Homo sapiens: one gene and its partner. The protein of the gene in region 1 interacts with the protein of each later gene in a pairwise test. Each region holds a gene or a part of one and is shown in the gene's direction. Other genes may lie near its edges.

Region 1 (4,508 bases):
GGGGGGGTAACTTCTTTATTTAGCATTAATCTCAGCAATCATGAAAGTCATGGAATTTCAAGTGATGAAAAATTTGACCACAACAATACCTATCACTAGCCTGGTTTTGCCCACTTCTCGAACAGGAATTATAAAGATAATAATTAATTCTAAAAAGCAGAAGACAAAACAAACAAACCAAACCAACACTGAATGAACTAATAAGGCTGCTGCATATATATGTTGGAGTTGGATGTTTATTTGCTTACTGCAGTAGTTTAAAAATAGTTTTCCAGTTAACATCTTTTCCACATAGTGGAGATGTCAGGGTAGGTTTACATGATTGCGTAAATGGTCAGAAGTTGTTTATGTAGCTCTGAACTGCTGAGAGATGAGCAGGAAGACCTGGGTTCAGCAAAACCCTTGGGGCTTTTTCCCAGAGAGAGAAACAGAGGCTCCTCTCTGGGTTGCTGGAATGCTTTCCAGACGAATTCGACTGGGTTGGCTTTTCTCTGCCTGTCAAAGTCACTTTGCACAGTGCTGGTGAGGGGCTGGGGCATTGCTGCCAATCTCTACGGTTACCCCGAGGTGTGGAGTTGCGGCGAAGGGAGCCACTTCTGCAAGGAAACAGTAGATTCATAATGTAGAATGACCGTGGCAACGTCGTTCAAAGCACATTCTTTCGAATAACAAGGCTTTCGACATGCCCCACCCCCGCGCACAACACACCACAAATTGATCCTTGTACCTAATTTACAGCAACTGTTCCCTCTGACCTCCCCCCGCCCCCGCCCCACATTCCAACCTGAAAGCACTTTGCGTGGATGAGACTTCAGGTGTGTAACGCAGCCTGTCCAGCCAGTGTCCTCCGCCTAAGGACAGGCAGGTAAAAACCTACCAAAGCCCCCTCTTCTGGCCTAAGTTCAATGCCACCCGCCCACCCACATTCCCCGGTTCAGCAATTTTCAGCCCAGACGCAGAAGCATCTGTTTCCCTGGCCAGGGCGCCTTAACGATCCCCCGAATTCCGCGTCTCCCGGAGGCCAGAGGTTTGGGTACCCAGGAAGGTCGCGCCTCCTCGTGCCCCGATACTCGGGTTGTAAAGGGAGGAGACATCGCCTCGGCGCATCCCTGGCCGCTGAACAACGCAACCCCTACGTCCCCGCACGGGAATCCGGCTGATAATCTCCTCTTGCCTGAGAATCGGGCCAGGCGCCCTTTACTAATTTCGCGCGCTGGGGACCTGGGGCTGCCGCCTCTCGGCCGCGCGGGGCAGGTGCTGCGTCCCCAGCGCTCGCCTCCTCCGGCCGCGCACTGAGCATGCGCGGGCTCCGGGCCTCCGGCGCGTCTCCCCGTCCCCGCTCGTCTCCCGCCCGTTCCCACCCGCCCGCGCCTCTCCCCTTCCCCGAGCGTCTCCCCCGCCCCGCGGCTAAGGAGCCGGCAGCCCGAACTCCGGCGCGCCAGGTTTTTCCAGCCGCCGCGAGCGCCGGGAGGGAGGGCAGCGCCGCGCCAGACGGAGCCCGGGGTTCGACGCCAGGATTGGCTGCAAGTAGGGAGCTTTCGCCGCCGCCCCGGGCCCCTCGGACTGTGCCGGCGCCGCACCCGAGGCTCTCGCCAGCCCGGCGCCCCGGTGCTGAGGTAAGTGAGGCGGCAGCTGTGCGGGTCCGGCTCCTGCGTGGGCGCGCGATGCCCCGGGGACGCGGTCGCGGGTGTGGGGGGGAAAGGGCAGGGTCCGCGCGGGTTGCCCGAAGGACAGGGGCGCTTCCCGGGGCTCTGACTCCCGCGGGGCCGGGCAGCGTCTGCGGGGCCGTCCAGCTCAGAGCCCGGAAGCCCTGCAGGGTCGGGGAGCGGGAGCTGAACGCCTGAGCGCGGAGGACTCAGGGCCCCGACGACGCCACCGTCACCCCACAGCGACCCTTCTTCTCCTTCTCAGCCGGAAAATAAGTTTGTTGCGCTGCGAGGCAGCCACAAAACAAGGAACCGAGAGCCCGGAATGCTGCGGGAAGCCTTCAAGTCAGCTCCTCCGACTGGTTCGGGCTACTGCCCCCTCTCCGTGCGCCCTGGCCTCTGGCGCCGGGTTCCCGGCGGGGCTTTTCTTCTGACAGCCCAGTCACAGCCCGCAGCAGAGGGACGCGAACCTGGGGAGTGGAGGGACCTGGGACTAAAGGAACAGGAGCCCGTAGCCGTGGTGGAAGGAGCCGCGTGGAGACGGAGGCTGATGTCTGTGGCGCCCGCTGGGTGCCGGGCTGGCTGCTGAGCGCTGAGGCTGCGGCGGCGAGCGACAGGCCAGGTGCCTGCTCTTAGGGAAGGTACCTGGCTTCCCCAGTCTCTGCCGCGGGAGCCTGTTGGGTGGCATTCGTTTCCAGCAACTTCTGGGGGGTTTCCAGTTTCTTTCGAGAGGCAAGACAACCGCCCCGTCCCCTCCCCGGGCCCAGACGGCGGCGAACTGTGCGCCGGGCGCCCCACAGACCCCAATCCACTCACTCTCCTTCTGGAACGCGGGGCTCAAAATCTTCGTGCATTTTCTCTCTTGTGCTTCGTGTATATGTTTTACTATTTATGAAGGGTGTGGAGGTGAGGGTAGGAGGACGTGGGCTCCTGAATCCCTCTGAACCAGCCAGAGAGTCGGCTGCATGGAAACATTTCGCAGCGAAGCTCCTGCGAGGAGGCGGCTTCGCGCGTCGGGAAGATCAGGCGGTTGCTTGCTGGCCAGGGTCTGCAGATTCGGTGCGAAGAAGCTGGCGGAGGTTGTGTAGGGCGAGTCAGTGTGACTGAGCACCCTGGGTGTGTGGTCTGCGTGGAGGAGAGTGGGCCGGATCTTGAGGTGTGTTGGAGGTTTATTTGTAAGAGGAGTTCCTGAAAGGAATGTCGTGGAACTTTTTCTAGTTTTCCTGCTGGAATCAACATAGGGGCGGGCACATGTTTGTCAGAATAACAGTGGCATTTAACTGCATGGGAAGCTCTTTCAATTTTCTGTAGTGGGAGCTGGATAGTTCAAGGAGTAACTCCACATAACTGAGTCGTTTGGATACCCACACAAGATAATTTGGAACGCGCTTGTATTTTTTTGTTTTTTGAGATTTCTGGTTTATGTCCTTTAGAGAGTGGGGTAGGAGCGTAAAGACTGTATAGGTTGCCTATGAGCAGGTCCATACAATAGCGTTCCCAAGTCTGCCTAATAGCAAGTTTGTTCTCTCTTTCTCTCTCTCTACCCAAGTGGGTGAAAAAGAACAGTGTGTCATGAAGACAGGCACCTGGAGGTGATTTGGGTGGCATTCATGAGAAAATTCACGTTACCCGTAAGTTTATTCTTGCTATTTTTATCTTGATTTCTTTAAAGATTTTGTGGGAATATCTGCAGTGGGTCGCAGGAGTAGGTAAGATTGCTAAGGATCAAAAACAAGTTTCATGAGAATATTATTTTTGCTACCTTATAAAATAGCTATTGATTTGTTTGTTGAAGCTGGTTTCAACTGCTCTGTCTTGTTGAGGAGAGATGATGCTGATAAACGTCATTATTTTTCCATCTGAACCCTGGGAGGTAGCTGGCAAGGATGGAAAAACTGACCTTTTCAATTAAAGACTAAGAGTCTAAGAGAAGTGACTTGGATAAGGGTGCATGTCAGAGCCACATGTAAGTTTCAACAGAGGTAGATTTTCCTATTTGCAGTTTTTTAAACAACACTTTTCAGTTTCTTTGAGTTGTAAAACTTTTCAAGTCAATTGGGAGTCAATGCAGTACCTTTTTCCATGGTCATTTCATATTGGCAGGTAATTAAGAGTGATTAGAGAACAAACCTTTCAAATGATGTTGGATTTTTTATCATTCACTTATTTTACCTACTTCTCTCTCCTTTTTGTTCAAAAGTAGGTCTTCTGATTTCTTTTCCGATCTAAGCACTAAATCTTTTGGCTGCAGTTTTTCTTCTGAAATGTATACAGGGCATCCGTTCCTTCAATTTAGGTCTTAAAAAAATAAAGCTGCTCAGCAGAAAATTCCCATGCATGGTACTGACTTTTCTACAAGTTTGTCTGATCATGATTTTAACTTGTTGTTTCTTCTTTGTTATATTTGAGGACAGACATAATATGCATTAGCTTCAATCTCTCTTATCTTAAAAATTAATATTTTGTAAAAACTTGCTTTTATATTATTTTAGTTGAATAAGTCTATTTCATATGATAGGCAGGGGGAAGTCTCTACACACTGATTTTTTTTGTTCCTTTTTGTTCATTTTTCCCTGTAATGCTATGTTTTAAGCCTAGTGAAGGAGGCAAGGAGGCAGGATTTACTGCCTAGATTTATTGATCTTCATTATTATTATTATTTACTATCAGAAGAAATCTGACAACATATCAATAAAATTTATTTATAAACTGAAGACATGCTGTTATATGATACACTACTTATAAAACACACAAAGAAACAAAAAAGATGAATAAAGCAAAAATTATGAAATAGAAGGTCTCATGTTGCTGTTATGTATCCCGGTGGATCATTTTGTACAGCCCCTGGGGTGTGTAGCACAC
Region 2 (3,811 bases), on another chromosome or scaffold:
AGTCTCTGTTTAAGCATCTATATTTATATATAATTTGTAAGCTTAGAGCCTGTATCACCTTAATTGTAGATAAGAAAAACACATACATCTAAGATATATCTTTTTATCCTTAACTGCTTTTGGTCCCAGAGCACATGGGATCTTTCAAATTACCCTATACAATATTAGAATCTATAGCATAAGACCATGTTTTTAAAAGGACTAAGCAGTATTTTACATACTAGAAAATAATTTTTCTCACTTTGCCTTTGTTATATTGTTAATGGTGACGCTAAGATAGGTACGTATATACAGGGTTGAGTATTAAGGAAATAACTTGCTCTTTGGAGTCTAGTGGCCTGGATTTGAACCCTAGATCCATCACTTAGTAGCTGTGTAATGTTGGGAAGTTACTCAAACTCTCTCTGCCTCCTTTTTTCTTTATGCTGAGGAAAAAAGTATCTAACTCACAGGATGATCATGAGAATTAAGAGTTAATACATGCAAAGCATTTAGGAAATTGTCCATTGCATAATAAATTTTTTAAAATGCTTATTATTGTTAATATTATTATGTAGAAACACTTATTCCTATTACCTGTTGAGAACTTTTTCATTTTTTAAATAGAAATTAAAACCAACTAATAATTTAACTTTTACAAAAACTTTAAATAGCACATTAGTCTTTATATCATTGTATTTTACAGCGTAATTACTATTCATCAATTAACTTGTATTTCCATGTTTTATAGTTACAGGTCTGAGGAAGAGGTACAGTGACTTAACTAGGCTTACCTGATAAATACTAGGATTAGTGCTGAAATCCAAGTTCTCTTGATTGATTCTTGATTGTAGGCAGTAAATACTTTTCCTTCATAGGCCCTATTTCCCTACTTAATCAGAATGCTTATCATTTAACAGAATGCATATTTTTTATTTATTAAACATTCCATTAGGTAGATGTCGTATAATAGGTTAAAAAAAGATGGGACAGAGGCTTTATTGGTTTAGAAATTTTCCTCACTTAATTTTGACAACTATTTAAATAAAAGTGCTTGGGTAAATAGAAGTTAAATGAAATAAGCCAATAACATGTTAGTTAGGTATTTTAATCATAAGTATATGATATGAATGAATCTGTGTCCTTCACTTATCCTGTATTTATAGAACAATTATAGGTAAAGCAAGGGTGTCCTCTTACCACTTTACTATCTGAGATATAAAAGCAAGTTAATGACAGATCAGAATTTGTCGTAAGCATTTCCAAATACCATCTGAAACATTAGATGAGGCCTTTTGTTAGAGATTTTTTTGTATAGGAACTTGGCCTATAGAAACTTTTACCTTCAGAGTTCTAAAATTTCGTGCAACTTTCATACTCCGTGCTCATTTAATGTACATGGGTGGTCAAGTCTCTGGGTAGACTGAGGTAGACCCAGTACTAGTGATTTCCTTGGGCTCACATAGGTGCCATCTTTTTTTCAGGCTGCCTCTGTGCCTGTAGTTCACATTTATTATCTGTTTAGGATAGATATGCTCCTAGGTTCTCTACCAGGGTATTTTTTTATTACTATTTTATTACTCACCTTGGCAAGTATGAATAGATATTACGGCGTTTATGATTAAATTCATTTAAATCCATTAACGTAACTCCACTTTGTTGTAGATGTATTCGTGTCAATAAATTTCAGAGAGTTGATCCTGATGTCCTGAAAGCCTGTGAAAACAGCTGCATCTTGTATAGTGACCTGGGCTTGCCAAAGGAGCTCACTCTCTGGGTGGACCCATGTGAGGTGTGCTGTCGGTGAGTTCTCAAGTTTAGAGGCTGAACTGATGACCATGCTGGAACTAATTTTATGACATTCTGTCATGTACGGCCTGCCTGTGTATCTTTATGGCCAGGAGCTGGTGGTTTAACTCTCTCAGATGTAAATTTTATGAAATACTTTTCTGGAGGTGATGTTGAAGGACTAGTTAGATTTCTGCTTTATAGCCGAAAAAAGAAACTGATTAGGCGGGGGTTTTCTAGTAGTGCTTTGCCAAGAAGCTTATTGTAGACCAAGAAGTAGACACCTAGATTCCGCTAGGTGTCTATTATCTTTAATTGGTGGTGCACTTGTCTGTCTTCAAATTAAGAAGCTAATCCCAAATAATACTGGATAACCACTTTTGGTTTGTTTCTGTTTCTGTTTATTCTCCCTCTCTCCTCTTTTTTTTTGGGACGGAGTTTCACTCTTGTTGCCCAGGCTGGAGCGCAATGGTGCATTCTTGGCTGTCTGCAACCTCTGCCTGCCGGGTTCAAGTGATTCTCCTGCCTCAGCCTCCTGAGTAGCTGGAATTACAGGCGCCCACCACTGTGCCCGGCTAATTTTTTTTTATATTTGTAGTAGAGATGGGGTTTCACCATGTTGGCCAGACTGCTCTCAAACTCCTGACCTCGTGATCCGCCCGCCTTGGCCTCCCAAAGCGCTGGATTACAGGCGTGAGCCACTGCGCCCGGCCTCCTCCTTTTTGATTATGTAAGTGACTGAGTGATACTTCGTGGTTTTATTTTTATAATGGAAGTTATTTTTCACATCTCCTAATGAATAGAGTTGTGAAAGATCAGTGCTAGGTATGAAATCTTTTTGAACTCCACTTGCTCAAAAACCATTATTTGTGGACCAGGCACTCTCAGTTGTAGGGTTTTCAAAAACGAAAGCAACATTCTGCTTTTAGGTAATTCAGTTTGAAATTGAGAAGAAAAGTAAGCAAATTACATTGTTATCTGATTTATGTTAGAAATGTGTACAAAATGCAGTGGTAGGTTGCACAAAGTAGAAAGTTACTGCATCTGGTGAGGAGTCAGGAGACTACTGAGTAGGTGATACTTGAGCTGGGAGGTGAAGGATGAGCCATGGTTGACCAGGTGACAAGGTGGGAAGGATGTTCTAACTAGCAGGAAGAAGATGAACAGAGGCATGGAATTCCTGCAAGAATTTTCCTGTGGCTCTGCCTTTAGGATGTTTCTATTTGGTTTTGAGGTACAATTCACCTGACCACCTGGCCTCTTTATTGATTGTAGTAAAGTTGCTTTTTGAAGGAACCCTAACTATGTACTCCTAAGGTGGTCGCAGACTGACCTGATTCCAGCAATGAAGGTGGAGGTGAAGACAGGAGAGATGAATTACATGATTATTCTTCCATTAAATTTTGTCAGGACCACCGCTTGAGGTTACTACCTGATTTGCCAGTGGTTGGTGTAAGTTTATTGCTTTTGGAAACCAGATGTAGGTGGTAGAGGTTTGTGATAAACATTCTCCAATACTTCTTTCTCGGGTAGAAAAGGAGCAAGCTATCTCAAATTTAGGTCTGAGAAAATAAACATTTTTAGATTCTGGGACTAATTAAGGACCTGCTTTAGGCTAGTTTCAGACTTGGAAAACTTTGGCCACTGAACCTGTGCAGAAGACCTCCATTTATAAGAAATAGCTGTCAAAAAGCTACTATATTGAATTGTTTACTTTTTAATTTGACCTGCACTTAGATCCTAGTTGGCTCCTATTTAACACACAGTTAAGTTAGTTGTGTGGTTTCTTAACCCATGAAATGTGAGAAGCAGCATTTTAAAGAGGGTTGATGAGTCAGACGCTACCAAAAAATGTCATGTGGTCTGACATAGAGGCAAAAATGAAAAAGCTAAAAAATCAGCACGATTATGTTATCACACAATCAAATAGTTTACGTTCAATATAATGATCCTAAACCATCAGGGGAAAGTTTTTATGTCCAAGGATGTTTAACAAGTTACATAATTATATAAACATTTTGGACCTATGTATTTAAAATGCTTA

The links.
Region 2: the proteins of CNTN4 (region 1) and BTG3 interact in a two-hybrid assay, tested with the Homo sapiens proteins (one large-scale study listed by BioGRID and IntAct).

Annotation. Positions count from the first base shown.
Region 1 is NC_000003.12:2,097,363-2,101,870, forward strand, and holds the start of CNTN4 (contactin-4 isoform a precursor), read left to right. Parts: upstream 1-1,503; 5' UTR 1,504-1,616; intron 1,617-1,911; exon of another isoform or gene 1,912-2,802; intron 2,803-2,953; exon of another isoform or gene 2,954-3,195; 5' UTR 3,196-3,277; exon of another isoform or gene 3,278-4,508. UniProt on the Homo sapiens protein: Contactins mediate cell surface interactions during nervous system development. Has some neurite outgrowth-promoting activity. May be involved in synaptogenesis.
Region 2 is NC_000021.9:17,602,831-17,606,641, reverse strand, and holds part of BTG3 (protein BTG3), read left to right. Parts: intron 1-1,644; coding exon 1,645-1,782; intron 1,783-2,365; coding exon of another isoform or gene 2,366-2,497; intron 2,498-3,811. UniProt on the Homo sapiens protein: Overexpression impairs serum-induced cell cycle progression from the G0/G1 to S phase.